Linked DNA regions of Homo sapiens: region 2 is linked to region 1. Evidence: fine-mapped expression QTL. A gene starts in region 1. The other region holds a variant in brackets. All regions are shown on one strand. Distances are between the middles of the regions.

The links. PIP is the estimated chance that this variant, and not a neighbour inherited with it, causes the effect.
Region 2: its variant is the best candidate, but not a certain one, in a credible set for the expression of CERNA1 in substantia nigra (GTEx, PIP 0.53).

Annotation. Positions count from the first base shown.
Region 1 is chr15:52,170,532-52,187,265 of GRCh38, reverse strand. It overlaps CERNA1 (competing endogenous lncRNA 1 for miR-4707-5p and miR-4767), which reads right to left and starts at 7,240. Exons shown (of 3, transcript NR_102751.1): 1 at 6,865-7,240; 2 at 6,064-6,216. GNB5 (G protein subunit beta 5) reads left to right here. Exons shown (of 13, transcript NM_016194.4): 2 at 2,572-2,715; 3 at 7,387-7,498. The coding sequence starts at 2,590. RefSeq lists enhancers at 2,692-2,861, 6,710-6,799, 6,623-7,124 and a silencer at 7,170-7,829.
Region 2 is chr15:53,014,555-53,031,288 of GRCh38, reverse strand. All of the region lies in intron 4 of LOC107983981 (a long non-coding RNA gene), which reads right to left. Among named protein-coding and RNA genes, the nearest start is that of LINC02490, 93 kb to the left of the region's middle. The variant G/A (reference allele first, on the strand shown) is at 8,973.

The DNA.
Region 1 (16,734 bases):
CTGGGAGTGTTCAGCCCAACCTTGTTACTGGCTGCCTTTACAGGGCTGGGGAGTGGGATGCAACAGTTACCAAGCCCCACCATGGGCCAGGCTCTGGAGGGCAGGCCCTTTTTTGTTAACTCACCTTTTGTGACAAAACCATGCAGCTTGACCATGCTAGCTTGGAAATAGGGTTCCAAAGTGTGTATTCATGCTACTTACAGACTCAGCTCTGCCGCTGACCTTGAACTTGTTTAATCCCCCTGCTTTTCCTCAGCTGTAACACAGATGTCCTGCCTCCCTCCCAGGGAGAGGCGAGGGCTGGGCACTCTGTGGCAGTTGGTAGCTGGTTTCCTTGCGAGCTGTTGTCCCTAAGGGATGCCCTGTACACCTTTGTTGCCCAGAGGTCTCGAACTGTGCTGACTGCCCCTTTGCTGTAAGAGCTCAGCCCAACTCATGAGCCCCCATTATCTCTCCAGCCCCAGGGTGGGCTCCACATGGCAGACGTTCCTCATCAGAAATGTCCCCAACTGTCACCTCCCCCATAAATGCATCCCTCTCAGATTTGACTCTGTTGAAATGTTCAGACCAGCGCCCCCAATTATCTTTATGTTCAGGGGTTCATTTCTTTGAATCTTGACGGGGCTCACTCTAGAACACCTACCAAATTGACAGGGCCACACTGGCTGCTCCCTTCCCCCTTAACCGCTTTGTCCTCATCTCCAGCAATGGCAACATAACCCCTCGGTCTCCCAAAGAAATCTAGGCCACAGCACCCACATCTCCCTCTCCTCAACTCCACATGCCAAATCCAGCTCCTTCTCTCTTTCCTAAGCATGGTCCAAGTCCATCCCACTACATTGCTTTGTGGGCCTAAAAGGAAGAGGCTGTAGCACAAACCAAGACTTAAGGAGTTTACTTGAGCCAAAGTGAGGACAGATTCCTGGAAGGCCCAGACCCAAGTAACCTTGGACATTATCTCTGTTTGGCCTTTGTTACAAGCAGTTTTTTTAAAAAGGCAAAAAAGAGGGACCGGGAGTGGGCTGATACAAAGTTGTTAGGAATTCTCATTAGTTTACAGAAATAACATTGATTAGCGACTGGTTATACATTGTTACACTACAGGGTGTGGGTTATAGTGTCCAGTGTGGCATTATTAGGTTATTTTTTAGCTACTTGTGCCAATGGCAAGCAGTTTCAAGAGATGAGGCCAGGTGTGGTGGCTCATGTCTGTAATCCCAGCACTTCGGGAGGCCGAGGTGGGTGGATAACTTGAGGTCAGGAGTTTGAGACCAGCCTGGCCAACATGGTGAAACCCTGCCTCTACTAAAAATACAAAAATTAGCCTGGCATGGTGTCTTATGCCTGTAATCCCAACTACTTGGGAGGCTGAGGCAGGAAAATCGCTTAAACCCAGGAGAACGAGGTTGCAGTGAGCCAAGATTGTGCCACTGCACTCCAGCCTGGGAGACAGAGAGATACTGTCCCAAATAATAATAATAATAATAATAATAATAATAATAATAATAATAAAAAGATGAATACACAGCTCAAAGTGGGGACTAGAACGTTATTGCTGTCTCATTTTCATGATTCTCTGGGCCTGATAATTTAAAAGGGCTTGCATTCCTCAGATAAAAGTTACTTTCTCACCTTTAGTCCATGACTTCCTCGCGTCTTGTCTGAACCGTTGCCATAGGCTCCTCTTATGCTTTCTTTGGCATCCCCAGCCTCACCCTGCCCCTACCCATGTCCCTCCTTCCCAAGGCAGCCACTGTTCCCGCTATTGCTGCCACTCAGGGCAGCATGACCTCGCTGGCACACTCCCTGTATTACCGACCTTGAGCTAAGTGCTTTACGCACTGACTCTTATCATTCTCTTGACAACCCCAGAAGGGTAGATTTTAAGATCTCCACTTGACAGATTAGCAAAACCAAGCTTCAGAGAGGTCAGCTAACTAGCCTCAGTGGTGGGCCGGGACCAGGCAGCCAGAGCCTGTCCCTGTAACCACTAGATGCTTGTGCTGCCTCCCTGCAGCGGCCTGGGCCTGTCTGTTGACTTCCTTGTGAACAGGCAGGGACCCTGGGTCTTTGGCTGTCAAATGTTTAATAAGTGAGTGCTTGCCTTGCACGGAACCCACACCACACTTACTCAGGCCCCTGGCTTTGGTTGGGGTCAGGCTCCATCATTTGCTGACCCTTATCTTTAAAAGTTCACCCTGAGGGGAGGAATGTTTTTAAAAGTTTTAAGTTATAGCATCCATTACAAAAACGTTTTCCATTGTGAAACCCCACAGAATTGATATTGTGCTGCAAGGATCAATCCTGCCTGACGCAGGTCTGCCAGCTGCCAAAAAACTGGTTAAACGTGTTAAGTTCAGAAAACCTATTGTCTGATGCTTTCTCACTGATTAAATGAGTTGTATTGACCCAGCATGTTGTAATAGTTGAAAGGTTATAAATTAACTGCATATACTCTATCCCACATGTAGACGTCTGAATAGCTACCACGGTACAAGCAAGAAGAGATTTTAGAAAGTTAAAACCATTGGCTTTTCTCACACCCCCTCCCTTCTTTTCACTTTTTTTCAGCTTTATCTTGGGTAAAAGATGTGTGATCAGACCTTTCTCGTTAATGTATTTGGCTCATGTGACAAATGTTTCAAACAACGAGCTCTGAGACCAGTTTTCAAGAAGTCTCAACAACTCAGCTACTGTTCAACATGTGCAGAAATTGTAAGTGCCACTTAAAAAAAATTCAGTTATCTGTCTTAAAACAGTCAAGCGAGGGTCCTGTGACAGATGAGATGCCATAGAATCAGCTTATATAACACACACTTTTCAGTATGCCTGGGCTTGGTGAGGCAGTATAGTACAGAGGTTCAGGGTGTGGACTCTGGTGTCTGACTGCCTGGGTCCAAATCCTATTGATGTTCCTAGTTATTGGTGTGCAAGGAGGTTCTCACCTCTCTCCTGAAGCCTGTTTTTCCCATCTGCAAATAGGAATGCTAATAGCACCTACATCATAAGAGTTTTATGATGATCAAATGATTTCATTTGATAACTTATTTTAAATAGTACCCAGCAAGGAAAGTACTCAATGAATGTTTTAGCTTCTATTATTTCTTAGGGCTAATACTTTTTTCTTCTGACTTCTACAAGTCTGCTTGGCAGGCAATCAAGCTAAAAGAGAAGCTGGCAAATAAACAGTCTAGGAGCATCTTTCCAAGGACCGGTCCCAGTGGTGTGTAGGTCCAGCTCTAATGAAGATGGAATCTCACAGGGCCTCAGTAGTGAGCAAAATTCAGCTCAGAAGTACTCCTTGGGCCTAAGCCTTCAACAAAGACTAGGAATGGAATACAAATCCTGGAATTTTTCAAAGTACACAAAATCAAGTCCTCACCAGAGGTGGCTGTGCACAGGCTTCAGATCTTGCAGCAAAAATGCCCACAGCATCACTGAAGCCCTAAGAATTAGTCCTATCTCTGAGAATTTGCAAAGCTGCGCTCAATAGTGCAGCTGAGCAGAGCCCCCACTTGGTGAAAAGTGGTAAAGCACTCCTCCTGAAAAGCCCAGTAGGAAATCCCCACACATTTAAAAAAACAACAACAAAATCCATAATACAACCAAAGAGAGGAAAGATGACTTTTACATTTTATCTAACTGAAAAAGAAAAGGCACTTTTTATCCTCCTGATTCCACTGTAACCCCTGACCATGATTACATTAAAAATTATTCCCTTAAAGCAAATAGCAAGTAAACAGCCCAGGGTGGCATAAAAAGGCTTTGATACAGCATAGCAATTTGGATATGTCTTCAGCCTAGGTGTAGTGGGCTTCTACCTGTAGTATATTTCTACAGTCTACGTTCTAACTTGGCCCTGCAAATTGTAGAACTGAGGACATTTAGTTCTTAAAAATAAACCTGCTTTCTGGGGGCCTTACCCCCCCCCCATTATTTATTAATCTAACTCTTCTGCTTTTTAAACAACTTCCTCTGCAGGTGGAATAAGCCCAAGAATCCCAGATTTTGAGTCCTCTGTGGCACACAGGTTCTCCCTAGCACAGGGGCCATGCCTGGAGATACTTTTCTAGGGAATAGTTGCCAGCTAGCGCTACTATTAGGTTGGGGCAAAAGTAATTGCGGTTTTTGCCATTGCTTTCAATTGAAGCAGTGGCACGATCTCGGCTCACTGCAACCTCTGACTCCAGGGTTCAAGTGATTCTCGTGCCTCAGCCTCCTGAGTAGCTGAGGTTACAGGCACAAACCACTATGCCTGGCTAATTTTTGTATTTTTAGTAGAGAGAGGGTTTCACCATGTTGGCCAGGCTGGTTTTGAACTCCTGACCTCAGGTGATACACTCACCTTGGCCTCCCAAAGTGTTGGGATTACAGGTGTGAACCACTGCGCCCGGCCCACACAATCTTACTTAATTCTCATAACAATTCTCATTGCTTTCAATTGAAAGCAATGGCAAAAACCACAATTACTTTAATACAATCTCTACTCTCTACTTGGGGGTTCCCAAATATTCAGACAGCATCATTCAGCTGAAGAGACATCCAGTGACTGACAGCTGGCCTTTCATCCAACTGTTTGGGATTATGTAGACACAGTCCCCATTGGGCCCTTTTTGTGAATAGGAGTGACCCTTTATCTCAACCACTGTGGAATGTAGCTGACCTCAACTTTTCTGATATCCAGCTTCCTCAGTGGGAGTTAACACCAAAATACAAGAAAGTACTTGGAAAACTGCCTAACCATTAAAAGTCTGATGGCCTCATCTCTAGATAGTTGACTCTCCAGGTTGGAGGCTGTTCGAGGTTTATTTTACACAAAGAACCCCCAGAAGAGGGCACACACCAGTGAGAAGTACCACGTGCCTCAGGTCTTCACAGCCAGGAGGACCTTGAACCACACACACATCCTGCAACGGTCCAAACAGAGCCAGCCTAAGGAGGTGATGAGATGAGGCTGCCTTGCCTGGGCCCCCTGAGATGGCCCTTGTGAGAAGAATCCCCCATGACCCAGTGTCTCATTTAAATTACCTCATGTGAACTGCTCAAGCGTATCAGGCAGCCTCAGTAATAATAACAGATGCATACTGTGTGCCACGCACTGCTCTCTCCGAATGCCATACAGAGTCTGAAGGAGGTGTTGTCCCCCATTCACAGATGAGGAGCCTGAGGCACCACAAGTAAATCCCTCAGGCCACAGAGCAGAGCCAGGATTTGCCCCCAGGCAGTCAGATCTAGATAGAGCCTGTGCTCTTAACCTTTTGCTTTACAAACTCTCAAACAGGTGTAATATTTTTGCTTTTATATATTCTTATCTTATACTTAATAATTGTATTTATATATTTATTCATTTATAAACATGTTTGTTATATGTTTATATTTTTAACATAGTTTATACAGATTTATATATTTTATATATTTTTTATACATCCATTTAATAAACTAGCATTAACTGAGCACCTACCATATGCAAGTACTATGCTAAATATCTAAATACTAAGGAACAGCGACAAGTAAACCTATTATTATACGGATGGGAACGGAAAAGAGAACTAGCAGTGAATAAGCATCTGCTATGTACGGAGAAGTCTGCTAAAGTCTTCACCCACACTATCTTACCTTTTTTTGTTTTGTTTTTGTTTTTGTTTTTGTTTTTTTTGAGTCTTGCTCTGTTGCCCAGGCTGGAGTGCAGTGGCACGATCTCGGCTCACTGCAACCTCTGATTCCAGGGTTCAAGCGATTCTCGTGCCTCAGCCTCCTGAGTAGCTGAGGTTACAGGCACGTACCACCACGCCCGACTAATTTTTGTATTTTTAGTAGAGAGAGGGTTTCATCATGTTGGCCAGGCTGGTTTCGAACTCCTGACCTCAGGTGATACACCCACCTTGGCCTCCCGAAGTGTTGGGATTACAGGTGTGAACCACCGCACCCGGCCCACACCATCTTACTTAATTCTCATAACAATCCTATGAAGCAGATCCTATGAAGAAGCTTTTCCAGATAAGGAAACGGAGGATCCCAGACTCTAACCTGCAAAACAACTATGTACAGATTAACATCGAGTACCTTCAACTTTTCTCAGATAGAGAAGGCCCGGGACAGCAAGTGGAGGCTGGCTTCTCTGGGAGGGAGCAGGTACAGAGAGGTGGGGACAGCACCCAAGATTCTGCTTGGCGATGTTCTCGCAGCATCTGTAACTTTGATCTGCCTTCTCATTCTCTGCACAAACGCATGCAAGATCACATAGGAGGGAAAAAGGAGAAGGCTTGAGTTGGATCATCCACACCAAAGTCCAGAGCACTAGGGAGCCAGCCTGTCTGGGTCCAAATCCTGTCTCTCCCTCTTTCTTGGAGCATGCCCCCTGAGCAATTACTCAGTCTTTCTGTGCCCCAGTTTCCTCTTCTGTAAAGTGGGAATAAGTGTGCCCATTCAAGTTGACTCCTGTGAGGATTAAACAAGTGCAAATTAAAGCACTTAGAACAGTGCCTCTCACACTTCAGGCGCTTGCGGAGAGGGGATGCTTCAGTCTGACAGAAGTCGCTAAACGTGCATCCTGGCAGAACTGTGCCAGCCCTTCATTCTAAAGGGCAGGAGGTGGCCTCAGAAGTGAGAGGTCCGAGATGCCTGGGCGTGGGCTCAGAAGCCCCAGGTCTGAGCCTGCGCGCCCACTTGACCCACCGCCATCTCCTTTTGCCGCCCCCAGGCCAGGGACCTGATTCCTGCGTGAAGAAAAGAGAAAATAAGGGTGGGCCTCCTAATGCCGCAGAGACTCCGTCTGAGAACCCAGCAACTAGTTTTATTTTTGTATATTTAGATCAACAAACGAAGAGGGTTTCCGGTTCCTTGTTGGGGGAGCACCGTAGCTACCTGCGGCCAAGCCTCGTAGCCGTCTCCTCTCCCGTCCTCTCTCTGCCTGCAGGAGCCACGGGCCCGCAGCCCGCAATCAAGTCCCACAGAGCGGAGATCTGCACGAGAGGCTTGGGGATGGGAGGGCCATGTCGCGGGGGCCTCACCGGTCTCCCCAGAAGCGGGGAGTCCCGAGTTGGAATCCCGGCTTGGCCCTTCCCTCTGTGTGCGTCCTCGGGCAAATCACCCAGCATCCCTAAGCCACAGTTTGCCCGCTGGTAAAATGGGCGTCACACTCCCTGCCTCTCCCGGAGGAGAGAGGCTGACGCGGACATCGCACCAGGCACTGCGCCAGAGCGCGCGCCCAGGTGCGGGGTCTTGGGGCTCAGGCGCAGCAGCCGGGCCCGCAGCTGCTGGCGTCATCGCGGAGGGCGGGGCCGCGGGGCGGTGCTCGGGGCCGGGGACGGCTGCTGGAGCGGCGCCCGCCGCGGCTCAGCGCATTCCCGCTCTCCGCTTCCCTCTCCGCTGCGTCCCCGCGCGAAGATGGCAACCGAGGGGCTGCACGAGAACGAGACGCTGGCGTCGCTGAAGAGCGAGGCCGAGAGCCTCAAGGGCAAGCTGGAGGAGGAGCGAGCCAAGCTGCACGATGTGGAGCGTGAGTGCGGGCCGGGAGGCGGGCGGGGCAAGCCGGACCGGCTCGCCACTTCCCGGGCGGGGACGGCGGGGGCGGTGGGGGCGGTCGTGGCTGCGACGGGAGCCAGGCCCGCGCCACCGCCCGGGAGCAGGGCCCTGGGGCCCGGGCGCGCAGGTGAGGCGCGGGTAGCGGTCCCGATCCCCGGGACGCGCGGCGGTGGGGCCCTCGGAGGGTCCGGGCACCTGGCCGACCCCCGCCGCCAGCTAGCGGAGGACCGCGGGACTAGCTATCCTCATCACCTGCCTGGAAGCTGCGAACGGATCGCGTTCTTGCCCCTCCCATGCGGAGGGCAGGGGGTGGGGTGTCGGTGGTGACGAGCGAGCGCGGCGAGCCCGTGTAGGCGCGGCCTAGGAGAGACTCCTGTTTTGTTTTTTAATGCCCGTCTGGCTTTCTCCATCACTGTTGTATCTTTTCTCAGTTTTGCTTTTATGAGACTGCAATTTCAAAGCTCATTTTTCCAACCTCTCCCCTATCCTTGGGGCGGGGAGCTGGATGACGGAGAGAGAAGGGAAACGGAGGAGCTCACTAAATTCAACCGTTCAGTTCGTTTAAGGCTGTTTAAAAAGCTTTTGGATCGATGTGGTGGATTGGCATAAAAAAGCCATAGCGATCTTAAACTTGCATTCTTCACCACCACCACCGTAATTCAGAACTGGCTCTGTGATTTTTATGAGTGAGCGATTAAATAGCCAGGTTCAGCGGCTCTTGGCCAAAACAGCGTTCCTTTACTTTGTCAGAGGGCTCCTCCTCAGCAGAGCTTGGGCTGGGGGCCAGGCTTGGGGAAGTGGTTGTATCTGCTCACTTTTGAGCTCTGAGGGTGGCATCTCCCCTTTGCTGAGCACCTCCCACGGTGCCCTCCTGCACACCTTGACGTTGTTCTCCTGCCATTCCTAATCGATGCCACCCTTTACATTCTATGTGGAATGGAAAAATGGGGTTCGTGCTAGGGCCTTTACCTTTTGATCTCTGAAGATCACTTAAGAGAAGTGGATGACCTGGATCTAGCGTGTGCTGTGCTTTCCTAGGGGTCTTCTTTAAATAGGAGGCACTCTAAGCTTAGAAATCCTGTCCAGCAATCACTAACTGTAAACCCCAAATAATGTAGTTATGCAAATTGAGAGTTACTTTTCTTACATAACAAGAGCAAAGGTGGATGATCACCTGCTGTTGTTCAGCTGCACCATGCACCCCCCACCAAGGGACCCAGGCTCCTTCTGCCTTTCTTCTCCACACCTTAGAGCAGTGGCATTTGCCCCATGATTATAATATGATTGCCACAGCTCCAAACATCACTTCTGTATCCAAGGCAGGAAGAAGGGGGAATATGGACACCAATCTCTCTTTGCTCCCTATCAAGAAAGCAAAGCAAAAGTTTTCCCAGAAATCCTTCTCCCAGTTTGAGACCAGCCTGGCCAACATGGTGAAAAGTATTCATAGGTCATCTAATTTCTCCATTTGACAGATGAGGAAACTGAGGCACAAAGAATTAAAGGACTTACCGAAGGTCCCCTGCTAAGTGTTGGGACCCGGATTCCCCCCAGGCAATCAGAGTGCCAGCTCAGGCTCACTTCAGATTATTTTCGCCAAACCCGTTTTGAGCTTCATGCAGAGGGCGTTCTCCAGAAACTCACTTATTCAATAGTGCAGGCTGCATGCCTGGATATTTTCAGGTTTTCTGTGAATTTGTAAGTTGCCTTAAGACAGAGAGCAGAGATGCAGCTTTTCAAAGGGAACCTCAGGGGGCAAATGTAGTCAATCCAAAAGAAGAAACTTTTTTTTGTCCTGCCAAGAGTGTGGTGCCCTCAAAAGCTAGGGCCAGATTTTAGACCCACAGTGGAAGGGTCTATCCCTACCTGCATATGTCAGAATTTGTGAGCTGGAAAGACCAGAAGTCATGTGGTTGTGTCCCTCTTGATTCCCCTGCAGCTTCCAGACCACTTCTCTTCTACCCCGCATAAAGCCTTTGCTTCTTGAAGGTTCTTATCACTGTATTGACCTCTTCCCCTTTGACATGTCTCCTGATCTCCCAGCCAGGTTCTCTCATTTCTCTACTTTTCTTTTCTTTTTTTTTTTTTTTTGACACGGAGTCTCCCTCTGTCACCCAGGCTGGAGTACAATGGCACAGTCTTGGCTTACTGCAACCTCCACCTCCCAGGTTCAAGTGTTTCTCCTGCCTCAGCCTCCCAAGTAGCTGGGACTATAGGCATGTGCCACCACACCCAAGTAATTTTTGTATTTTTAGTAGGCTTCACCATGTTGGCCAGGCTGGTCTCGAACTCCTGACCTCAAGTGATCTGCCCGCCTGAGCCTCCAAAAGTACTGGGATTACAGGTGTGAGCCACCGCACTCAGCCATTCTTTTCTTTATTCATCTTTATTTTTAAGAGACAGGGTCTCGGACCGACAGGGTGGCTCACGCCTGTAATCCCAGCACTTTGGGAGGCCAAGGCGGGTGGATCATGAGGTCAGGAGATTGAGACCATCCTGGCCAACATGGTGAAACCCCGTCTCTACTAAAAATACAAAAATTAGTTGGGCATGGTGGCAGGTGCCTGTAATCTCAGCTACTTGGGAGGCTGAGGCAGGAGAATAGCTTAAACCAGGGAGTTGGAGGTTGCAGTGAGCCGAGATCTTGCCACTGCACTCCAGCCTGGGCGACAGAGCGAGACTCCGTCTCAAAAAAAAAAAAAAAAAAAAAAAAGGAGGAGCTAGGCAGAGGCCCCAGGAGGGGGTGTGTTTGGTGTATCTGATGTATCTGAGGAAGAGTGAGGAGGCAGGTGTGTCTGGAGGGGAGTATGCAGGGCAGAGTCCAGCTGCAGGTTATGCTGGGAGCTCATGCAGGACCCCATGGGTGCAGTGAAGATTTGGGCTCTTACTCCCAGTGAGTTGGGAAACCCTTGGAGGGTTTTGAGAGAGAGGATGGATCTGATTGCTTTACTGGGCTCACTCTGCCTGCCATGTTTTGTGGCAGAACAAGACAGCTTGAGGGAGGGAAATGAAGTGTGAGAGGTAAGTGACCTGGGGTAAGAGTTCTTGACAAATGTCTCTTTCCCTCTTATCAGAGAGCCTACCTTGCGTGCCACTTGCCAGCTCCTAATGGAAGTTACAGCTGAAGGTGGAAGAGCGAGAGATGATTTCTGAGCTTGTCTTGGTCCCATAGTTGACCCTGCAGCCGCTCTTACCTTACCCCAGCCCAGACTCGCCCAGCTCCTTCCTAAGTGTGTTTGTCCCTTGGCACTCAGGTGGGAAAGGGAGGAAAGGATGCTGATGAGTTTTACTTGTGGAAGTATAAGCTAGAGCCCTGCCAGGTGCAAACAACAGTGCTGTCATTTTTCCCTGTATGAAGGAAAGTGGTATCATCCCCATCTGTGCGATGAGCGAGCAGGCTTAGCAAAGTCGAATAATTCCTTCAGGGTCATGCAGCTGGTTAGTGATTGGGCCAGGATTCAGTTTAGGAATGATGCAGCTTTCTTTGCAGGGCTCCCCATTGAGCAAGTGGCTGAGAGCCTGGGGGAAGGTGGGAAGGGTCTGGTGAGGCTGGGGAGGACCATAAACTGAATCTGTTCACTCCCCAGAGCAGGGGCTGGCAGCATGCACTTTCCTGTATCTCTTATGGTGACTGGCAGCCCCTTAGTTAACAGATGTTTTTGTTTGTTTGTTTGTTTTGTTTTGTTTTTTTTTGAGATGGAGTCTGGCTCTGTTGCCCAGGCTGGAGTGCAATGGCATGATCTCAGCTCGCTACAACCTCCACCTCCTGGGTTCAAGCAGTTCTCCTGCCTCAGCCTCCTGAGTAGCTGGGATTACAGGCACATGCCATCACACCTGGCTAATTTTTGTATTTTTAGTAGAGACAGAGTTTCACTGTGTTAACCAGGCTGGTCTCGAACTCCTGACCTTGTGATCCGTCCACCTTGGCCTCCCAAAGTGCTGGGATTACAGGTGTGACCCACTGCGCCTGGCCGTTTTTTGTTTGTTTGTTTGTTTGTTTTTTGAGACGGAGTCTCACTCTGTCGCCCAGGCTAGAGTCCAGTGGCACAATCTCAGCTCACTGTAAGTTCCACCACCCAGGTTCAAGCGATTCTCCTGCCTCAGCCTCCCAAGTAGCTGAGACTACAGGCATGTGCCACCATGCCTGGCTAATTTTTGTATTTTTAGTGGAGACCGGGTTTCACCATGTTGGACGGGCTGTTCTTGAACTCCTGACCTCAGGTGATCTGCCCGCCTCAGCCTCCCAAAGTGCTGGGATTACAGGCGTGAGCTAATGTGCCTGGCCTGACAGATTTGTTTCTGACACACACAGGCCTTGTTTCTTGCCCAGCTGAGATTCCCAGCCCCTGCTTCGTGATGACCTCTGCAGATATTTCCCATTTTGGAATCCAAGGATGGTTTCCTGTGAATTGGGAATGTGTGGCCAGACACATGAGTTTTATAGTACCAAATTAGGGTATGCGGCTGACACCAGAGGGGTATGGTTTATTCCCCAGAGCAACATGTGTTAGATGCCTGTACATTTTTGCATTTTAGTGTTGCTATATAGGTGGCCCAGTAGCCTCTGCCCTAGTCAGGGAGACCCCTTTAGGCTATCAGCTAAGGTAATCAACTCATCCCAGTTTGCCTGGGACCCTAGGTATGTGTGTTTGTTTGTTTGTTTGTTTTTGAGACAGAGTCTTGCTCTGTTACCCAGGCTGGAGTGCGGTGGCACGATCTCGGCTCGCTGCAACCTCCGCATTCCAGGTTCAAGCAATTCTCCTCCCTCGGCCCCACTAGTAGCAGGCACACACCATCTCGCCCAGCTAATTTTTGTATTTTTAGGAGAGATGGGGTTTTGCTATGTTGGCCAAGCTGGTCTCGAACTCCTGACTTTAGGTGATCCACCCGCCTCAGCCTCCCAAAGTTCTGGGATTACAGGCGTGTGCCACCGTGCCTAGCCAGACCCTAGGTTTTAAAATGGAAAGTCCTGCACCCCAGGAGACCCTGCGGCCCTAGGCAAACCAGGATAGTTGTTACCTCCTATTGGCTTGGACTTGCCCAAATTCTTGCCTTAAGGTAGCTTAAGGCAACATATTAAAATTGTATAGCATAAACTTTGAGGAAAAAATGGTTTCCTCTCTTCAGACACTGAGTTCTTCACCTCCATCCCTTTGGCCCTCATCCCCAAGCCAGACCCTTGGCCAACATTAAATATAGGAAGTATTAATAGCTTATATGGGTCCTCTGATGGGAAGCCAGCTCACATCAAACTCCACAGCCCCAAGCCCCATTTTCCCCTTCCTCCCACAGAGCTTCCTGCTTCTCCCCAGAGCTTTCTCCTTGTCACTTTCTGCTTATCTTCTACCACAGGCGAGTACTACCTCGCTTGATTCCAAGGCATTTTAGAATCATATGGTTACAGTGTGCATTCATTTCTGATTGCTACTGTACAAATTTCCACAAACTTAGTGGCTTGCAATAACATACATTTGTTTTCTTATAGTGCTGGAGGTCTATAATCGGTGACTAAAATGGGTGGGCAGGTCCTTCTGGAAGCTTTAGGGGAGAATCCATTTCTTGCTTTTTCCAGCTTCTTGGGGCTGCCCATGTTCTTGGCCCAAGGCTCACGTGATTCTGAGCACTGCTTCTGTGGTCACCTCTCTCTCTGACTCTAACCCACCTGCTCCCTCTTATTAGGATCCATGTGATTATGTTGGGCCCACCTGGATAATCCAGGATAATCTCCCCATCTCAAGATCCTTAACTTAATCACATCTAGAAAGTCCCTTTTGCCGTAAGATAGTATCGCCACTGGTTCTGGGGATTAGGATGTGGATACCTTTGGGGGCCATTATTTAGCCTATCACACAGCTTTTAGATCAGGAGGGTTCCCCTGCTTCAGCTTCAGTCTTCCAGCACAAAACATTTCCTTCTCTTCCTAACAGCCCTGTCCCTTATAGATGAAAAAGCAGCTGAGATCCAGGGAGGGGTGAAGGGATTTCCCTAAGATTTTGTAGCTACTCTAATGTTGAATAGGGAGTAGAGAAGATTCAAGCTCCCAGGACAGCTGTCCTCCTCACCATGCTAGACCTTCTCTTAGAAAGTTGAGATTTGCCAACAGTCTCCCTAACTGACCTAGTTCCGTCTACCTCTTCCACTTCACCTTGGATCAGTCTATGCTTTGCTCACTATCGCCAGTCACACTGGCCATCTTGGTGAGCTTCAGACCATCAAGCTTGTTCTTGCCTTCAGCCTTCAGACATGTTGTATTCTCTCTTCTGGAATGTTCTCCCACTTCTTTGCCTAGTTTACTTCATATATTCTGTCTCGGTTCATATTCCACCTCCTCAGAGGCACCTTCCCTTATTATAAAAAGCAGTAAATGTGCTGGGCACGGTGGCTCATGCCTGTAATCCCAGCACTTTGGGAGGCAGAGGCAGGTGGATCACTTGAGCCCAGGAGATCAAGACCAGCCTGGGCAGCATGGAGACTCCTTAATCTAAAATGGCCATGTCTGTCCCAACTTCCTACAATTTCAGCTCCCTTTCATTGTTCACTTCATCACTCTCTAAAATTACTTTCATTCATTTATTCTTTGTTGACTGATTGATGATTGGTTGATTTTATGTCTCCCTTACTAGAATGTAAGTACCTTGGCAGCAGGTACTTTATTTGTATCATTTACTGTGGATCACCCTCCTACAACAGTGAGCTAGGCTAAGTAAATATTTATCAAATGAAAAAAAAAGATTGGCATTGAAAAGAAAGAAAAGTAAATCCACGTATGAAAAGGTGCCGATTTTTTTTATTCAGTAAAAGAAAATAAAAAGCAAAGTGCCAAACAGTATATATAACATGATCTTAACAAACAAGAGGTGCTTGTATATGCAGTAAATGTCTGGAAGGATACGCAAGGAACTTGTTATCGCTAGAGAGGGGTATGGAAAGTGAAGGTGCTTTTCATTTTATACCCATCTATACATTTACTGTTTTTGAGCCAGGTTCTCACTCTGTCACACAGGCTGGAGTACAGTGGCCCGATCATGGTTCACTGCCGCCTCAAACTCCTGGCTACCTCAGCCTCTCAAGTAGCTGGGACTACAGGTGTGTGCCACCACACCTGGCTAATTTTTGCATTTTTTTGTAGAGACGAGGTTTCTCCATGTCGCCCAGGCTGGTCTTGATCTCCTGGGCTCAAGCGATCCACCTACCTCTGCCTCCCAAAGTGCTGGGATTACAGGCATGAGCCACCGCACCCAGCACATTTACTGCTTTTTATAATAAGGGAAAAATGAGTACTAGAATGGGAGTCAAGATCAAGAATAAAAGGAGGCCGGGCATGGTGGCTCACTTTGGAAGGCTAAAACGGAAAGATCACTTGAGCCCAGGAGTTGAAGACCAGCCTGGGCAATATAGTGAGACCTCAACTCTCAAAAAAATAAAAATAAAAAAATAAAAATTAGCCAGGCATGATGGTGTGTACCTGTGGTCCCAGCTACTCGGGAGGCTGAGGTGGGAGGATCACTTGAGCCCAGGAGGTTGAGACTGCAAAGAGCTATGATTGCACCACTGCACTCAAGCCTGTGTGACAGAATAAGATCCTGTCTCAAAAAATAAAAAATAAAAAGAGAAAGGGGAAAACAATTCAACTCTAAAGAGTCTTTAACTTGAAATTAAACTGAGGAATAATCTGCAAGACAGGCTCAAACCAGACAGACCAGGAAGGACATGGTGTTCATTTCAGCCAACAGGCACAGCAGCCTCCTGGGGCTGTGTGGGAGCTTTACTCCAATTCCCAGGTCCTTGAGGCAGATGCTAATATTGTTAAGGAACAAAGCAAGTTTATGTCGTTTCTCTGAGTACAAATCTAGACTAAATTTGATAGAAGGATGTATTATCTGATACCATTAACTTTTCTATCTATTCTAAATGTAATTTTTTGAAAAGTTTTATTATTGAATGCTTTATGGCTTAGAGTCTTGGACTATTCTGATTTATGGCTTAGGGAAAAATCTAGGAAAACCAACTTTCTAGATTAGCCTGGAGCAAACATATTCCTTGACTTTTTTCATATTCTAAGAAAATGTGATCTGTGTACCGACGCTTACAGAAGTCGGTTTCTCTACAGTCATCCTCTTCCCTGCTGTTTGGCCACATGCCTCCTGCAGCCATCAGAGGCAGCAGAAAGCTAACCTGCCTTCATTTCCTTTCCCCTTCCTTTCTCTGCATTCACTGTTATACTCGAGCTGGCTAATGCAAGGGTGTTTAGAGTACTTTCCCAATAAACAAATGCTCACTGTGGAAAAATCTAGAAATATAGAAGAAAACAAGTCATTCATAATCTCAATACCTAGAGGTAGCCATTTTTAATATTTTCATGTATTTCATAGCTTATGTTTCCATGTTTGTGTATATATTTATAAGCTTACTAGGGACTGTACTAGATAGAGGATTTGAGCCCAGTTTTAACATTCAGCACAATGGATTGAGTAGCTCCCCATGTCATTTACATTTCTTTTAATGTCATCATTAAAAATTCTTATATGGAACCTTACAGTATTCAATCTTAAAGATGGTCCCATAACTTAATTCTCCAAACTTTTAATTAGGGAATTCAGGGTAGAATTTTTTGTGGCTCATGAATTTTTTTTTTTTTTTTTTTTTTTGGAGATAGAGTCTCACTTTATTGCTCACCTGGAGTCCAGTAGCGTGATCATGGCTCACTGCAACCTCCACCTCCCAGATTGAAGTGCTTCTCTTGCCTCAGCCTCCCAAGTAGCTGGGATTATAGTCGCACACCACCATGCCTGGCTAATTTTTTTTTTATAGTTTAGCCATGTTGTCCAGGCTGGTCTCAAACTCCTGACCTCAGGTGATCTGCCTGCCTCAGCCTCTCAAAGTGCTGGGATTACAGGCATGAGCCACCACGCCCAGCCTCATGAATTTTTTTAAGGCAATTCACAAATCTCTGACAAATACAAGTGAGATAAATGTGACTATTAATGTTTTCCTTCCATACAGGGGTTTGAGAGGGTTTTTTTTTTTTTCTTCAGCTTTTAAGTTCCAGGGTACATGTGCAGGATGTGCAGTTTTGTTACATAGGTAAACATGTGTCATGTGGTTTGCTGCACAGATCAACCCATCACCTAAGTATTAAGCCCAGCATCCATTAGCTATTCTTCCTGATGCTGTCCCTCCTGCTATGCCCCTGACAGGCCCCAGTGTGTG
Region 2 (16,734 bases), 840 kb before region 1:
TTTCCTTTTTTAAAAAAATACCAAATGGAGGCAAACCTGTGAACACTAGAATATTAAAATTGAATATAGCATACACTTCTCCTGCTGTGAGCCTCCCTGTATACAGAATTCCAGTACCTGTTGATTTGCTTCTGTGCAGCTTTTCAGCAATGGGGAGAATTTCACTTTCAGTTACAGTGTATGAGATTTATGAATCTCTCCGACTGCGGATAATTAGAAAAAGAGAAAGTGGTGTAGGGAATAGGAAAAGGAGCAAAACAGACAGCAGAACACGAGCTGGAGTTTTTGCAATGTTTTCTTTCTCCCTTAGGATGTGGAAAGAAGGTAAAACCTGGCCTCAGAACTGCACTCCTGTGACTTTTGCAAGGCAGGAAACAGAGATGTGAGTATGGTGGCTGAGCGTGCTCTGGCATGAAACTAGCTGAGCAGAGAGAGTTTCTAAATCTCTGTATCAGGATAGAAGGTGAGAAATGCCTGCTCAGTGAGATCGAACCGGTTAAATAAAATTTCCTCAAAGATTTGAGGTTTACCTGTTTGTTAGTTTTTGTTTCCCTCATTTTTCTCCGTTGTTAATATCCAAGTCACTGCATTTCTAAACAGGAGTAGAACCTGAGAGATGGGAGGCAACAACTCTAAGTCATCAGAAAAGGCACTAAATACTTTAACAGTGGAGAAGACACAAAGAAAAGCCCTTTCAGCATGCCTGCTACCTGGAAATAAAAGAGGAGTGATGAATTCATTTTTTTAAGTGTTAAAACAATGGTAGAAGAAATCTGAAAATAGTTTTCAGTACCAAGGAGTGGCAAATCTAAATTAACTGTCATGTAACTTTTATAACCACCTAATAATGAGTAATATGGCATTGGCATTCTCTTTATTTAGTGTACTAATTTTACTGTCTTATTTTCATGTCATAAAATAGTTTAAATGATTTTTGTGTATCTGTCCACTTCCTCATTTTTCCAATGTCTTATCTATAAGATCATCTGATTCTCAACTATGAATCCTCCTATTAGATGTCTTGCAAATCCTTACAGATTTGGAAGCAACTCCTATGTATACATAGGAGTAGTATGAAAGTTCTATGCAAGTCAATAAGCTCAAATCAATTACTGGAACTGTGTGTTGTGCTATACAACTCAGGGGGTGGAAGAACAAAGAAAGACAGGAAAGATAGTAAAACATGTTCCTCCACCTGAAAGAGTTCACAATACGTGGTGAGAATAGATTAAAAAACACCAAACCATAGTAGATGTGGGAAATAAAGAAAAGGGATCCAAAGTGTTTCAGGACCACTGTTTGTGTGAAACTGGCAAAAAGGAAGGTTCTAGAAGTTTTCACAATGGAAGACACATTTAAACTGAACCTGTGAACAACACAGGCGTTTGCCATGCTAAAAATGGAGAGCAGAGGAAGGGAGCATTCTAATCAATGTTCATGACCTGTTAAAGAAACCTCCCTGTATCAATCAGGGTTTATAGCCACCATAAGTATTACAGGAATCAGGGATTTATTTTAGGAATTAGACCTTACACAACTGTGGGAGGAGCTGGGGAAGTGAAGGTCAGGATATCAGAGGAGAAGTCATTAACCAGTCTACCTAGAGCACTAGCAAGGGAAGAAAAGTTGAAGCTTGCAGTGAAATCCAAGAAACCAATTTATCTAGCCACCAAAGTGAAACCACAAAGGAAGAGCTTGTGGACAGGACTAGAGGAAGCTATGGTCTCTAAAGATCACAACCTCTGCACACTCATAGTCAAGAGTCTTGTAGTGGGCTTGAGACCACTACTGGTCAGCAGAGCAGCATTTGGGAAGATGTGTTAGACACAGAGAAGAGGAGAGCCATGATCAGCTAGAACCCATCAGGTTCTGTATCTGACTGGGACAAACTTCCAAATTAACAACTGCTGCTTCTCTCCCACCTCCCGAATTTCATTCAAGTTCTTCCTTCAGACATCTAACTGGGAACCCTACAAAGAAGGGTTTCTAAGAAATAGAATTCCCAACTTAACCAAATTGGTGTTGCCAAATCTCAAGGAAGTTGTAAGAAGGAAAACTGGAAAGGGTTCTTTGACACCAAGTAATTTCTTCTTGGTTCTGAAGAAATTGGAGCGTCATTAAAGGTTTTATCAGCAGACTGCATGTCCAATTTCTCTTTATTAAAAATAACTTAAGTGACTACGTGCTGTAACTCATAGATAGGGAAGGGAGAGAAGGTGATTTCATGTCTCCCTGAGTTGACTCAAGTTATTTCTTCTCTCTCAATTGCTCTTCTTGCACATCCAGTGAAAAACTCTTACTCCTCACAGATTTCATTCAGACATCACCTCCTCTGAGAAGCCTCCAATGACTTTCCACTGCATATCCTCCATTTCTCCCTTTGGGCTCCCATAACATCTTGTACATACTACTATTAAAGCACTTTTCATATTGTGGTGTAATTTTCTGCTTTTATGGTTGTTTTTCTTCAGTAAACCATAAGTTCCTTGTGAAAGGGGACTATGCTTTATTTCTCACTGTTTACCCAAGATCTTGTTGATAGTAAGTGCTCAAAAGACAGAGAGTGAAGAAATGAATGAATGGTAAATGATTGAGTGAAAAAGAAGCCTATTGAGGATGTTAATGCAGTAGTTAAAGCTAAAGGTCCAAAAGGCTTGGATTAGAAGAGTGGCAATGGGGATGCAGAAAGTGGGGAATAGCCAAGTAACATTTAGAAACAGACTGCCTAGGATTTGTTTGATACCCATTGAACATGGAAGATGTGGGAGATAGACCCTGATAAATGTTTAAAATGAGGGTATAAAGTTATAGAATAAATCATAGTAAGTTTCATCAAAGAGATGAAATTGTTACAACATTAAGAAGATTATGTCTCCATAAAATAAAATATAATCAAAGCACTTCCCAACAAATGGGCCTAAATTAGCGGTGGCTAGCTTAAAAGAGGTGAATACTATTATATGTTAGAATTTTCTGCAGGAAACCTTAATTCCTAAGCTTCTATCTCTACTTTTTATTTTGTTTCACTTGGCAGTTACCACTGGGTGACTTTAATGGAATCAAAAGAACTGTAACAACACATAATGACTTTTAATGCAATTTTGACATGAGGCATCATTGGTATCATTGGCGTATTGCAGATTTTCAAAATGGCTCCACACTGAGCTAAGGAAGGCCAGGAAGCGCTCTCTCTCTCTCTCTCTCTCTCTCTCTCTTTCTCTTGCTGTGTCTCTTCAAATAGGCTGAATCTCCTTTCATATAGACTTGGGTTTGAATTTCAGCTTCACTCTTTATTAGCTGAATGATCTTAGGCAAGTTTTTTAGCCTTCTAACCTCACTGTCTACATCTGTAAAATTGCTATAACACCAATTCCTGTATTTTATATGTTAAACGCTTAGGGAAATATCTGACTGGTGGGGTAATTCTGGTTTTTTTTTTTTTAGTATTTTCTTCTATTTGAAAGAGTTTCAAATAAAGTAATATATATCTATGGCAAAAAATTCAAAAACACCTCTTGAAGTTCATTGAAAAATTCTTCTTCTCTTCCTTTCTTCTAGTCACATAGTTCTTTAGCCAAAGGAAATTACTATTATTCACTTTAGAAATAGGCCACACATTTTCCATATACATAAATTTTGTATATCCATACTATTCTGAACTCTGTTTTTTTGTTCACTTAATATTGAAAGACTTTCAGATAAGTATACATTGCACTGTGTCATTCACTTTTTTAACAGCTGTTTCATATTTTATTGTATGGATTATTCATAAATTATTTAACTGGTCTCTATTAAAGAACATTTCAGTAGCTTCTAATCTTTTTACATTTCAGTGTTGCAATATCCTATAAATGCATCACTTCACTGATATATGATTGTATTATAACATAAATCAAAGTGGAAATTTTGGTCAAAGATATGCATATGTATATTTTTCTTTTCTTTTTAAATCATTTTAAGGAAAGTGCACAAAATTTTAAAATGCACATCTCAGGAGGTGGGGCAAGATGGCAGAACAGAAGCCCACACCGTTCATCCTCCCCACAGCAACAGCAAATTTTAACAACTATTTGCACACAGAAAAGCACTATCACAAAAAACAAATCAAAAATAACAACAACTTTTCAAGACATAGACAGTAAAATATGACATAAGGAAAAGCAACAAAAAGTTTAAAAAGTGAGGATGAAGTTAAAGTATAGAGTTTTTATTATTTTTCTTTTTGAATGTTTGTTTATGTGATCAGTGTTAAGTTGTCATAAGTTTAAAATAATGGGTTATAGGATAGTATTTGCAAGCCTCACAGTAACCTCAAATCAAAAAACACACAAAAAAGTACAAAAATTAAAAAGCAAGAAATTAAGTCATACCACCAGAGAAAATCACCTTCATTAAAAGCAATACAGGAAAAAGAAAAAAAGAAGAAAGGACCACAAAACAAGCAGAAAATAAATAACAAAATGGCGTAAGTCCTTACTTATCAATAACATTGAATGTAAATGGACAAAACTCTCCAATCAAAAGACACAGAGTGGCTAAACTGATGGAAAAAAACGAGACCCAATGATATGTTGCCTACAAGAAATATACTTCACCTATTTAAAAAAAAAAAGAACACATGCACTGAAAATAAAGGGATTGAAAAAGATATTCTACGCCAATGGAAATCAAAAAAGAGCCTTTCAATCTAAAAGGTCTTTAAATCTAAGATCTCAAACTATGAAACTACTAAAAGAAAACTTTGGAGAAGCTGTAAAGGACATTGGTCTGGGCAAAAATTTCTTGAGTAATACCCCAGAAGTACAGGCAACCAAAGCAAAAATGGACAAATGGGATCACATCAAATTAAAAAGCTTCTACACAGCAAGCAAGCAACAAAGTGAAGAGATAACCCACCAAATGCAAGAAAATATTTGCAAACACCCCATATGACAAGGGATTAATAACCAGAATTTATAAGTAGCTCAAACAACTCTATAGAAAAAAAATCTAATAATCCAATCAAAAGATAGGCAAAAGATCTAAATAGACATTTCTCAAGATAAGACATACAAATGACAAGCAGGTACATGAAAAGATGCTGAACATCATCTACCATCAGAGAAATGCAAATCAAAACTAATATGAGATATCATCTCACCCCAGCTAAAATGGCTTATAAATAAAAGACAGGAAATAACAAATGCTGGAGAGGATACAGAAAAGAAGAGAACCCTCATATACTGTTGATGGGAATGTAAATTACTCCAACCACTATGGAGAACAGTATGGAGCTTTCTCAAAAAAAAAAAAAAAAAAAAACCTAAAAATAGAGCTATCATATGATCCAGCAGTTCTACTGCTAGATATATACCCAAAAGAAAGGAAATCAGTATATCAAAGAGATATCTGCACTCCACTATTTATTGCAGCACTGTTCATAGTCGCCAAGATTTGGAAGCAACCTAAGTGTCCATCAACAGATAAATGGATAAAGAAAATGTGGTACATATACAAAATGGAGTTCTATTAATCTATAAGAAAGAAGGAAATCCTGTCATTTTCAACAACATGGATGGAGCTGGAAATCATTATTTTTTTTAAATAAACCAACCACAGAAAGACAAACATTGCATGTTCTCACTTATTTATGTGATCTAAAAATCGAAACAATTGAACTCATGTAAATAGAGAGTAGAAGGATGGTTACCAGAAACCAAGAAGGGTAGTGGGGAGTGCAGGGGGAGGTGAGGATGGCTACTGGGTACAAAAAAAACAGGAAGAGTGAATAAGACCTAGTATTTGATAGCACAGCAGTGTGATTATAGTGAATAATAATTTAATTATACATTCTAAAATAACTGAGAGTATAATTGGATTATTTGTAACACAAAGGATAAATGCTTGAGGGGATAGATACCCCATTTTCCATGATGTCATTATTAGTCATTGCATGCCTGTATCAAAATATCTCATGTACTCCATAAATATATATACCTACTATGTACCCATAAAAATTAAAAATTAAAAAAACTGTACTTCTCAATTATCACAGTGACATCCTGTGATGGTTAATATTGAGTGTCAACTTGACTGGATTGAAGGATACAAGGTATTGTTTCTGGGTGTGTCTGTGAAGGTGTTGCCAAAGCATTTGAGTCAGTGGACTGGAAGAGGTAGACCCACCCTCAATCTGGGTGGGCACCATCTAATCAGCTGCCAGCACAGCTAGGATAAAAGCAGGCAGAGAAACATGGAAGAACTAGACTGGCTGAGTCTTCCAGACTTCATCTTTCTCCTGTGCTGGATGCTTCCTGCCCTCAAATATCAGACTCCAAGCTCTTCAGCTTTTGGACTCTTGGACTTACACCGGTGGTTTGCCGGGGCTCTAGGGCCTTTGGCCACAGACTGAAAACTGCACTGTTGGCTTCCCTGCTTTTTAGGTTTTGGGATTCAGACTGGCTTCCTTGCTCCTCAGCTCGCTGAGAGCCTATTGTGGAACTTCACTTTGTGATCATGTGAGTCAATACTCCTTAAGAAACTCCCTTCCGTATATACATCTATTCTATTAGCCCTGTCTCTCTAGAGAACCCTGACTAATACACATCCCACTTCCTTGGCCAAGAAACAGAATGTTTCCAGAATCTCAAAAGCCTCATCCTAATCACCAATCTTTATAGTCCCCTAAGACAACCTCTGTCCTGGTTTCCATGACAATACCTTCTTACCAACTCTCACTTCCAAAAATGCTTCACCAAACACCACAGCCTACTCTTGCCTGCTCTTCATACTCTTCATTAACAGAGTCATAATGCAGATATGCTTTCAAATCCTTCATTTGTTCAACATTGTACTTGTAAGAGGAATTCATGTTGTTGCACTTACATGTAGTTTATTCATTTTCATGGCTGTATAGTATTTCATTATATGAGTATACCATAATTTATACATCCATTCTAGATAAGACATTTGGGTTGTGTCAACCATTAAAATAATGTTTTTATGAACATTCTCGTATATGTCTCCTGGTACATATGAGTTCCCATTTATGCGGGGTATAAATCTAAGACTGTAATTGCTAAGTCAAAGAATACATGTATCTTTGTCTGTCCTTAGTAGATAATACCTTACTGTTTTCCAAAGTAGTTGTACCAGTTTACACATCAATGAATGTGAGTTCACCTAGTTCTACATCTTCAACACTAGGCATTTGTCAGTCCCATTAAGCATAGCAATTCATGAAGATGGCAAATAGTATCTTCTTATGGTTTTAATTTTAATTATTAAAGAAGTTAGGCAAATTTTCATGTATGTTTAGGCCATTTGAATTCTATATTTTGGGGAGTACCTATTCAAATCTCTTGCTTATAGGTTATTTCTCTTAATTTTTCCTTTTTATTTTTCACATTTTGAATACAAAGACTTTGTAAGTAGATTTCAAATATGTAATATTTCTTGCAAATACTTTCCTTCTTTCTGTTTTGCCTTTTCACTTTCTTTTGATAAAAAGAAATTCTTAATGTTAATGTAGTCATATTTGCCCTTTTTTTATAGTTAGTGTTTTTTCCACGTTGGACCACAAAGATATTCTCCTAAGTTATCTTCTAGGCTGTTACTGTCTTGCCTCTCACATTTACATCTACCTGGAATTGATTTTTTTTATGGAGTGATGAAGGGGTCAAGTTTCTTGTTTTCCATGTTTTTACTCATTTTTCCTAGCATAATTTATTGATAAGCCTGAGCTTTCCCAACCATTTTGGTGTGCCACCTTTGTCATAAATTTAATGTTCATCTATCTGTGGTCAATTTCTGAACTTTCTATTATAGCCCACACTTTTATTTGCTTATATCTTATCATCTTCTGACTTGCCCTTTTTCAAGAATGCCTTAATTATTCTTGACCCTCTGAATTTTCATTTAAATTTTAGAATCAGGTTGTTTCCACCAAAAAAAAAAAATGAGCTTTTTATTGGGATGAGGATGTTTATTGGGATTGAACTGAAAAGGTAAGATTGAACGGCATTAACATCTTTCTTATATTAAATCTTCAAATCTATATACATTTTTTCTTCCAGTTATTTATATATTATTCTTAGTTTTATGGTATGCTTTGTGGTTTTCTGCATAGATGTCTTACACATCTGCATTAACCCGTTTTCATGCTGCTGATAAAGACATATCTGAGACTGGGAAGGAAAAGAGGTTTAATTGGACTTACAGTTCACGTGGCTGGGGAGCCCTCAGAGTCATGGCGGGAGGTGAAAGTTACTTCTTACATGGCAGCAGCAAGAGAAAATGAGGAAGAAGCAAAAGCGGAAACCCCTGATAAGCCCATCAGGTCTCTTGAGACTTATTCACTATCATGAGAATAGCATGGGAAAGACTGGTTCCCATGATTCAATTACCTCCTCCTGGGTCCCTCCCACAATACATAAGAATTCTGGGTGATAAAATTCAAATTGAGGTTTGGGGGTGGATACAGCCAAACCATATCAACATCATGTTTTAGATTTGTTTCTAGATAATTTATATTTTTACGCTATTGTAAATCGTATTTTTATTCATTTCATAGCTGTTTATTACAGGTATATAAGTTCACAGTTTATATTTCAATATTGACCAGTAATACTATAAGTCATGCATTAACTAAAGTCATGTATTACTAATGTTATCTGTACATTCTTTTGAATTTTTTCATAAAATCATATCATTTTTTGTAATCCTTTTATTTCTCCCTTCCAATCTATATACCTTTTTTCTTTTGGTTTTTCTGCCTCTTTGCACTGGATAGCATTTCCAGTATAATGTTGAAGAGAAGTGGTGATACTGAGGATCTTTCTGTTATTTCTAATCTCCAAAGAAGAGCATTTAACCATTAAGTATAAAATTATAGTAGACTTTTTATAGATATCTTTTACCATTAGGAAAATCTTCCTGTATTCCCAGTTTACTAAAAAATTCTTATTATGAACCAATGTTAAATTTTATTCAAT[G/A]CAATTTCTGAACTTATTGAAATGGTCGATTTTTTCTCGTTTACTCTAAGTTAATTTCACTGATTTCAAAGGCTAAAGCAATCACATTTGATTTGTAACATTTTTATTAGGTTTTTTTAATACCTCTATGCCTATAAGTGAGATAGGCTTTATACTTGATATAAAATGTGTCTGGAATATTCTTTTGTGTAACATGATAGTTATTTTGGTCCTAAATGTCTGATATAATTTCTTATCTGATCTGATCTAGAGTTTTGTTTGTAGGAAAAGCTTTAATTTCAGATTCAATTTTCTTAACAGTTAAAAGACTATTCAGATTTTCTCTTTCTTCAGATGTCTTTTAATAAAATTGTACTTCTTTAAGAATGTGTTCATTTCCCCTAAATTTTGTAAAGTTTTGCTATAAAGTTATTCATAATAGTTTCTTATCATTTCAATATCTAGGACCTGAGATAATCACTTTTTTATTCTTGACATTGATTCCTCTCTGTTTCTCTCTCTTTCTCTCTCTTTCTGTGTGTGTGTGTGTGTGCATGTGTGTGTGAGTTTGTGTGTCTCCCTCTCTTGGCCTCACCAGAAACTTCTCAGTTTTAATAGCTTCTTCTAAAACCAACTTTTGCCTATATTGATGTATTGTACATTTATTTTTTGTTTTCAACTTCATTATTTTCTACTCTAACATTCATTATGACATTTCTTCTGCTTTCTTTGGTTTGATTTGCTGTTATTTCCCAACTTCTTAAGACGGATGCCTAGCTCATTAATTTCAACCTCCCATTTTTCCTAACTTATGTACTTAAAGCTATAAATTTCCCTATAAGCAAAGCTTTTTACTATATTTCACAAGTTTTGATATGTAACATTTCCAAAATCATTCAGTTGAAAGTATTTTAAAATTTCCATCATGATTTCTTCATTGAGCCATGGGTTATTGTTTAGAAGTATATGTCTTCATTTTCCAAAGGTTTGTGAATTTTATAGTTTCATTTTTGTTATTGATTTCTGGCTATGATTTTTTTTATTTCAATGAGTGAGCTGATTTCAGTCCAGAACAAGATTTTGTACTTCCAGGTGCACTATCCAAATGGTTCATGTGTGGAGCCAAGTCACAGCTAAGATTCAACATCCTGAGTCACATTTCAAAGCTGGGTATATAGCCAGCACATCTCACTAGCTCAGAGTTACTTTAATAAATGGCAACCATCTTTACATGTAAGATTCTGTTGTTCAGACCAGAAACTATTTCTCCCGCTCTAACTCTACTTACAAATGATTTCCTGGAGCTAAGCCAAAAACCCCAACAGGAAAGTGCTAAAATGGTGTACTAGTACAGATCCTTAGTACCGGGCACTACTCCATAAGAAGCTACCATATATCCTACCTATGTCGAAGCTACCCCCTCAAGTTATGTAGGCTCTCTGTGTGACCACACACAGCAGCCCTGCCCTCTTCCCACACTAAGCCTCAGCCAGACAGATCCATTTTCCTTAGCTAAAATGCCAGCTGAAGTAGGTCAGAAACCATGTATATTCAACCTTGTGTCTCCTGTGACATTTAGCTCAATTCCTAGCACCTGTGTTCAATAAATGTCTGTTGATGGATAAAGTAAAGGATGAATATCTGGACAGAGAGTCAGATAACAGAAGAAATTGAGCAAGTTTATTTTCTCCTACAAAGGACTGAGATCCTTTTTAAAATAGAGGTGGAATAAACATAAACTTAAATCAAGTTTCATATAACATAGAAAGCCAGCATCTATGAAAAGGAAAAATAACAAGACAGTCATCCTCTGAAATAATGGAACTTAAACCTATGAAGGAGAACATACAAGGTGAAACTATTAAAAACTAAATGTTGGTTGAAAAGGCAGTTGGATTCAAGAAAATTTAAAATGATGACAGGGTTTTTTTCTCCCTCCCAGATGCAGATAAAAGGTATTAGAATGCCTCAGCCACTTGGAAACAGCAAGATAGTGCATAAAGATAAACTCTGGAGCTTTACTTCAAGAAGGAAAATGGGAATCCACCAGAATCATGATGGGCACCACAGATACTGGGGAGGAGAACGCCAGCAAACAGCTCCTGTGACATTTAGCTGATAAAAGTGAGTGAAGCCTGAGTACCTCAGAGAGGCAAGTAGCCTCCCTCTATGACTCACATTTCCACTGGGGATCAGAGCAACCCAGGCTGAGGGAGAGCACTTTGTTTCCCATAAGTGTGGGAGCTAATTTGGGGAAAGGCTTGGAGACAATGTAAGGGAAAGACACAAGAAAAAGCTGCAGACATTTTCCCAGACCCAGGACGGAGAACAGGACACCATTTTTAGCCCAGGCACATACAAAGTCAGCCATTCTTTGGTGACCTGGCAGCATGAACGTCAGGCATTTTAATATCAGACCAGAGACTGGAATGCCTGCTCTCGAGTGAGGGAGAAAACTATCCTAAATATATACACACCCAACATTGGAGCACCCAGATTCTAGACTTACTAAAAGACTCGGAAAACCACACAATAATGTGGGGGACTTCAACATCCCACTGCCAGTGTTAGACAGACCATCAAGGCAGAAAACCAACAAAGAAATTCTGGACTTGAATTAGACACTTGACCAACTAGACCTAATAGACATCTACAGAATACTCCACCCATCAATCACAGGATATATATTCTTCTCATTTTCACACAAAACATAACCCAAGATCAACCACATGTTTATCCATAAAACAAGTCTCAATATATATTTAAAAATAAAAACATACCAACCATGCTCTTGGACCACAGTGGAAGAAAAAATAGAATTCAATACCAAGAAGATGTCTCAAAACCACACAATTACATGAAAATTAAACAACTTTCTGCTAAATGAATTTTGAGTAAACAATAAAATATAGGCAGAAATTTAAAAATACCTTGAAATTAATGATAACACAGATATACCAAAATCTCTAGGCTACAGCAAAAAGAGTGTTAAGAGGAAAGTTTATAGCACTAAATGCTTACCTTAAAAAGTTAGAACGATTTCAAATTAATGGTCTAACATCACACCTAGAGGAACTAAAAAATAAAGAGCAAACTAACCCCAAAGTTAGCAGAAGAAAAGAAATAACTAAAATCAGAGCAGCACTGAACAAAATTGAGACCCAAAAATTCATACGAAGGATCAACAAAACCAAAAGTTGGTTCACTGAAAAACTAATATGAACGTCTCTGTGCACACAAACTAGAAAATCTAGAATAAATGAATAAATTCCTGGAAACACACAACCTCCTATGATTGAATAAAGAGGAAATTGAAACCCTAAACAGCCAAATATCAAGTTCAAAAATTGAATCAGTAATTAAAAACCTACCAACCAAAAAAATAAAATCCCAGACCAAAAGGATTAACAGCCAAATTCTACCAAATGTGCAAAGAAGAGCTGGTACCAATTCTTCTGAAACTATTCCAAAATACCAAGGAGAAAGGACTCCTCCCTAACTCATTCTACAAAGCCAGCATCACCCTGATACCAAAACCTGGCAAAGATACAATGAAAGGAAACTACCATCAATGTCCCTGATGAACATAGACACAAAAATCCTCAACAAAATACTAGGGAACCAAATCCAATGGTACAGCAAAAAGTTAATTCACCATGATCAAACAGCCTTCCTGGGATGCAAGATTAATTCAACATATGCAAATCAATAAATGTGATTTGCCACATAAACAGAATTAAAAACAAAAACCACAGGATCATCTCCATAGATGTGGAAATAGCATTCAATAAAATGCAACATCATTTCATGATAAAAACCCTCAACAAACTAGGCATCAAAGGAGCATACCTCAAAATAATAGGAGTCTTCTATGACAAACCCACATCCAAAAAAATGTCATACCAAATGGACAAAAACTAGAAGCATTCCCTTTGAGAACTGGAACAAGACAAAGACGTTCATTCTCACCACTCCAATGCAACATAGTACTAGAAGTGTTAGCCAGAGTATTCAGGCAAGATAAAGAAGTGAAAAGCATCCAAATAAGAAAAGAAGTCAAACTCTCTCTTTGTAGACAATATAATTCCATACCTAGAAAACCCTGAAGACTCTGCCAAAGGCTTGCAGAACTGATAAACAACTTCAGTAAAAGTTTCAGGATACAAAACCAATGTAAAAAAAATCAGTAGCATTTTGTGTTTTGGTTTTTGTTTTGTTTTGGTTTTTGAGATGGAGTCTCACTCTGTCACCCAGGCTGGAGTGCAGTGGCACAATCTGGGCTCTCTTCTACCTCTGCCTCCCGGGTTCAAGCAATTCTCCCTGCTTCATCCTCCCAACTAGCTGGGATTACAGGCGCCCACCACCACACCCAGCTAAATTTTGTATTTTAGTAGAGATGGGGTTTCACCATGTTTGCCAGGCTGGTCTTGAACTCCGGACCTCAAGTGATCTGCCTGCCTTGGCCTCCTAAAGTGCTGGGGTTACAGGCATGAGCCACCACACCCACCCATCAGTGGCATTTCTATACACCAATAACATTCAAGCTGAGAGCCAAATCAAGAACACAATTCCATTTATGATAACAACACAAAAAATAAAATACCTAGGAATATCCAACCAAGGAGGTGAAATGTCCCTACAAGGAGACCTACAACATACTGCTGAAAGAAACCATAGAGGATATGAACAAATGGGAAAATATTCCATCCTTGTGGACTGGAAAAATCAATATTGTTAAAATAGCCATACTGCCCAAAGCAACCTACAGATTCAATGCTATTCCTATCAAACTATGAATATTATTTTCCATAAAACCAGAAAAAACTATTCTGAAATTCATATGAAACCAAAAAAAGAGCCCAAATAGCCAAAGCAATCCTAAGCCAGAGGAACAAAGCTGGAGGCATTACGTTATCCAATGTCAAACCATTCTGTAAAGCTACAGAAAAGAAAACAGCATGGTATTGGCACAAAAATAGATACACAAACCAATAGAACCAAATAGAGAACACAGAAAGAAAGCTGCACACCTACAGCCATCTAATCTTCACCAAAGTTGACAAAAATAAGCAACAGGAAAGGTCTCCCCATTCAATAAATGGCGCCAGTATAGCTGGCTAGCCATATGCAGAAAGAAGAATGAAACTGGACACCTATCTTTCACCATATACAAAAATTAACTTGGGATGGACTAAACACTTAAATATAAGACCTCAAACTATAATAGTCCTAGCAGGAAAACCTAGGAAATGCTATTCTGTACATTGTCCTTGGCAAACATTTTATGGCTAAGTCCTCAAAAGTAATTGCAACAAAAACAAAAATTGACAAGTGAGACCTAATTAAATGAAAGATCTTCTGCACAGCAAGAGAAACTATCAACGGAGTAAACAGACAACCTACAGAATGGGGAAAATATTTGCAAACTACACATCCAAAAAAGGTCTAATATCCAGAATCCACAAGAACTTAGAGAAATCAACAAGCAAAAACCAAAGAACCCCATTGAAATGGGCAAAAGTCATAAGCAGGAACTTCTCAAAAGAAGACATACAAGCAGCCAACATACGAAAAAAGTCTCCACATCACTAATCAACAGAGAAATGCAAATCAAAACCACAATGAGATCCAATCTCACACCAGTAAGAATGGCTATTATTTTTAAAAAATCAAAAAATAACAGATGCTGGTAAAGCTATAGAGAAAAGGGAATATATGCGCTGATGGTGGGAATGCTAATTAGTTCAGCCACTGTGGAAAGCAGTTTGGAGATTTCTCAACGAGCTTAAAACAAAACTGCTATCAGACTTACCATTCCCATTACTGGGTATATGTCCAAAAGGAAAAAATCCTTCTACCAAAAAGACATATGCATTCATCTATTCATTGCAGCATTATTCACAATAACAAAGACATGCAATCAACCCAGGTGTCCATCAACATTGGATTGGATAAAGAAAGTGTTGTACATCTACACCATGGAATACTACGCACCATAAGAAAGAATGAAATCATGTTCTTTGTGAAGGCCATTATCCTAAGCAAATTAAAGCAGAAACAGAAAACCAAATACTGCATGTTCTCACCTACAAGTGAGAACTAAACATTGGGCACATCTGGGCATAAAGATGACAACAAAAGAAACTGTGGACTAGTAGAGTGGGAAGGTGGGGAGGGAAAAGGGTTGAAAAACTGACTATTGGGTACTATGCTCAGTACCTGAGTGATGAAATCATTTATATTCCAAACTTCAGCATCATACAACTGCACATGTACTCCCTGAATCTAAAATAAGAGTTTAAAAAAATTAATAAAGTATTCAAAAAATAAAATAAAATGACACATGTGGGGCTACATCCCTGATCACAAAAATAATTGTTCAGAAGTAAATACCACATAGTCTGGGTGTTTGAATCCAACTGTTTCCTAAACTGTTTGGCATGTTTTTTCATAGTACTGGGTTGGGGGAATCTTTTTGAAGGAGGGTCCTTTATGAAAATATCTGAAGTTTTTGGGTAGGGCATAAATATTCCTTCCAAAATTTCTCAAAGTTTTCATGTGTGTGTACACATACGTGTATCTGCATATGTATGTCTGTTCATGCTATAAGAAATATTAATAAGTGTTTTTAAAGTGATGCCCAAATACGTTTTGGAAACACCAAGATTAAATGCAGTTAAGCAAGTTTCTTTATTGTTCTAAAGTGCATTGTTACTCTATAAGAAACAGACATAATATATAGTATTTATATGACCATGTGACTCTATAACATCTTGCAGGACTAGTGTTCCACAGAACACACTTTGGGAAATGGTGCCCAATCCATAGAATTTTGGGTTTCTTTTATTACAAATGTATGTCCTGAAAATGAAAGGAGAATATGTCCCTGAATCTTAGGATAAACAAATTAAGGAAGACCCTAGAATAATGAGTAGCAGAAACCAAGGTTGAGACATTTAAAAGCAGATGTGAATTCTCATATATTACTGATTAAAGTAGCCTATGAAGGGCAATTTGGCAAGTTATCCTGCATATATACATGCACTTGAATCAAATGATACTTATGCATGATTATTCATATTAGCATTATTTGCAATAACTAAAGATTAGAAGCAACCTAAGTGTCCATAAGATGTTTGTTAAACCGTGGTACATATACATAATGAATTCTACACAGTTAATCAGGTCAGTTAAGATACAGGTCAATTCCAAGAGCATGAACCCCTCAAAGATTGTATGTTTCTTGCTAATCTTTTTATCTAAAGGATTGAGCACAGGTACCAAAATATTATAGGTGTTCCACAAATATTTGATGAAAAAATAAATTAAATAATTGAATGAATGACACAATTAAAGTCATAGCCTTTTATACCAATGAATTTAATTTCTGAATTTTCTTTCTTGGGACCCTAGTAATTCATCATCAAAAAACATACTAAGTACCTGTTATGTAGCATACATTATGCTGGATACAGAGACATAAGTCAGAAACAGATCTTACCCTTCAACAACTCAAGTCTTTCACAAGGGAAGTTAAGAGAAAATAAAGCACAATGGGAATTCGGGAGAGAGAGCTATTACTTTATCTGTTCGGTCATTACCAAATAATAAATACACAATGAAGAAACTAGAGAAGATTCTCAAGAGGCACTATCTCCTTGAAATATTTTTATCTGCTTCTAAGTGACCGACCATGATTCCTACAAACATGGACAGGAACTAGTGCCCAATTATTAAAATGCTGTTCTGGGACCTGGAAGGGTGAAAGGAAGTCTAACTAACT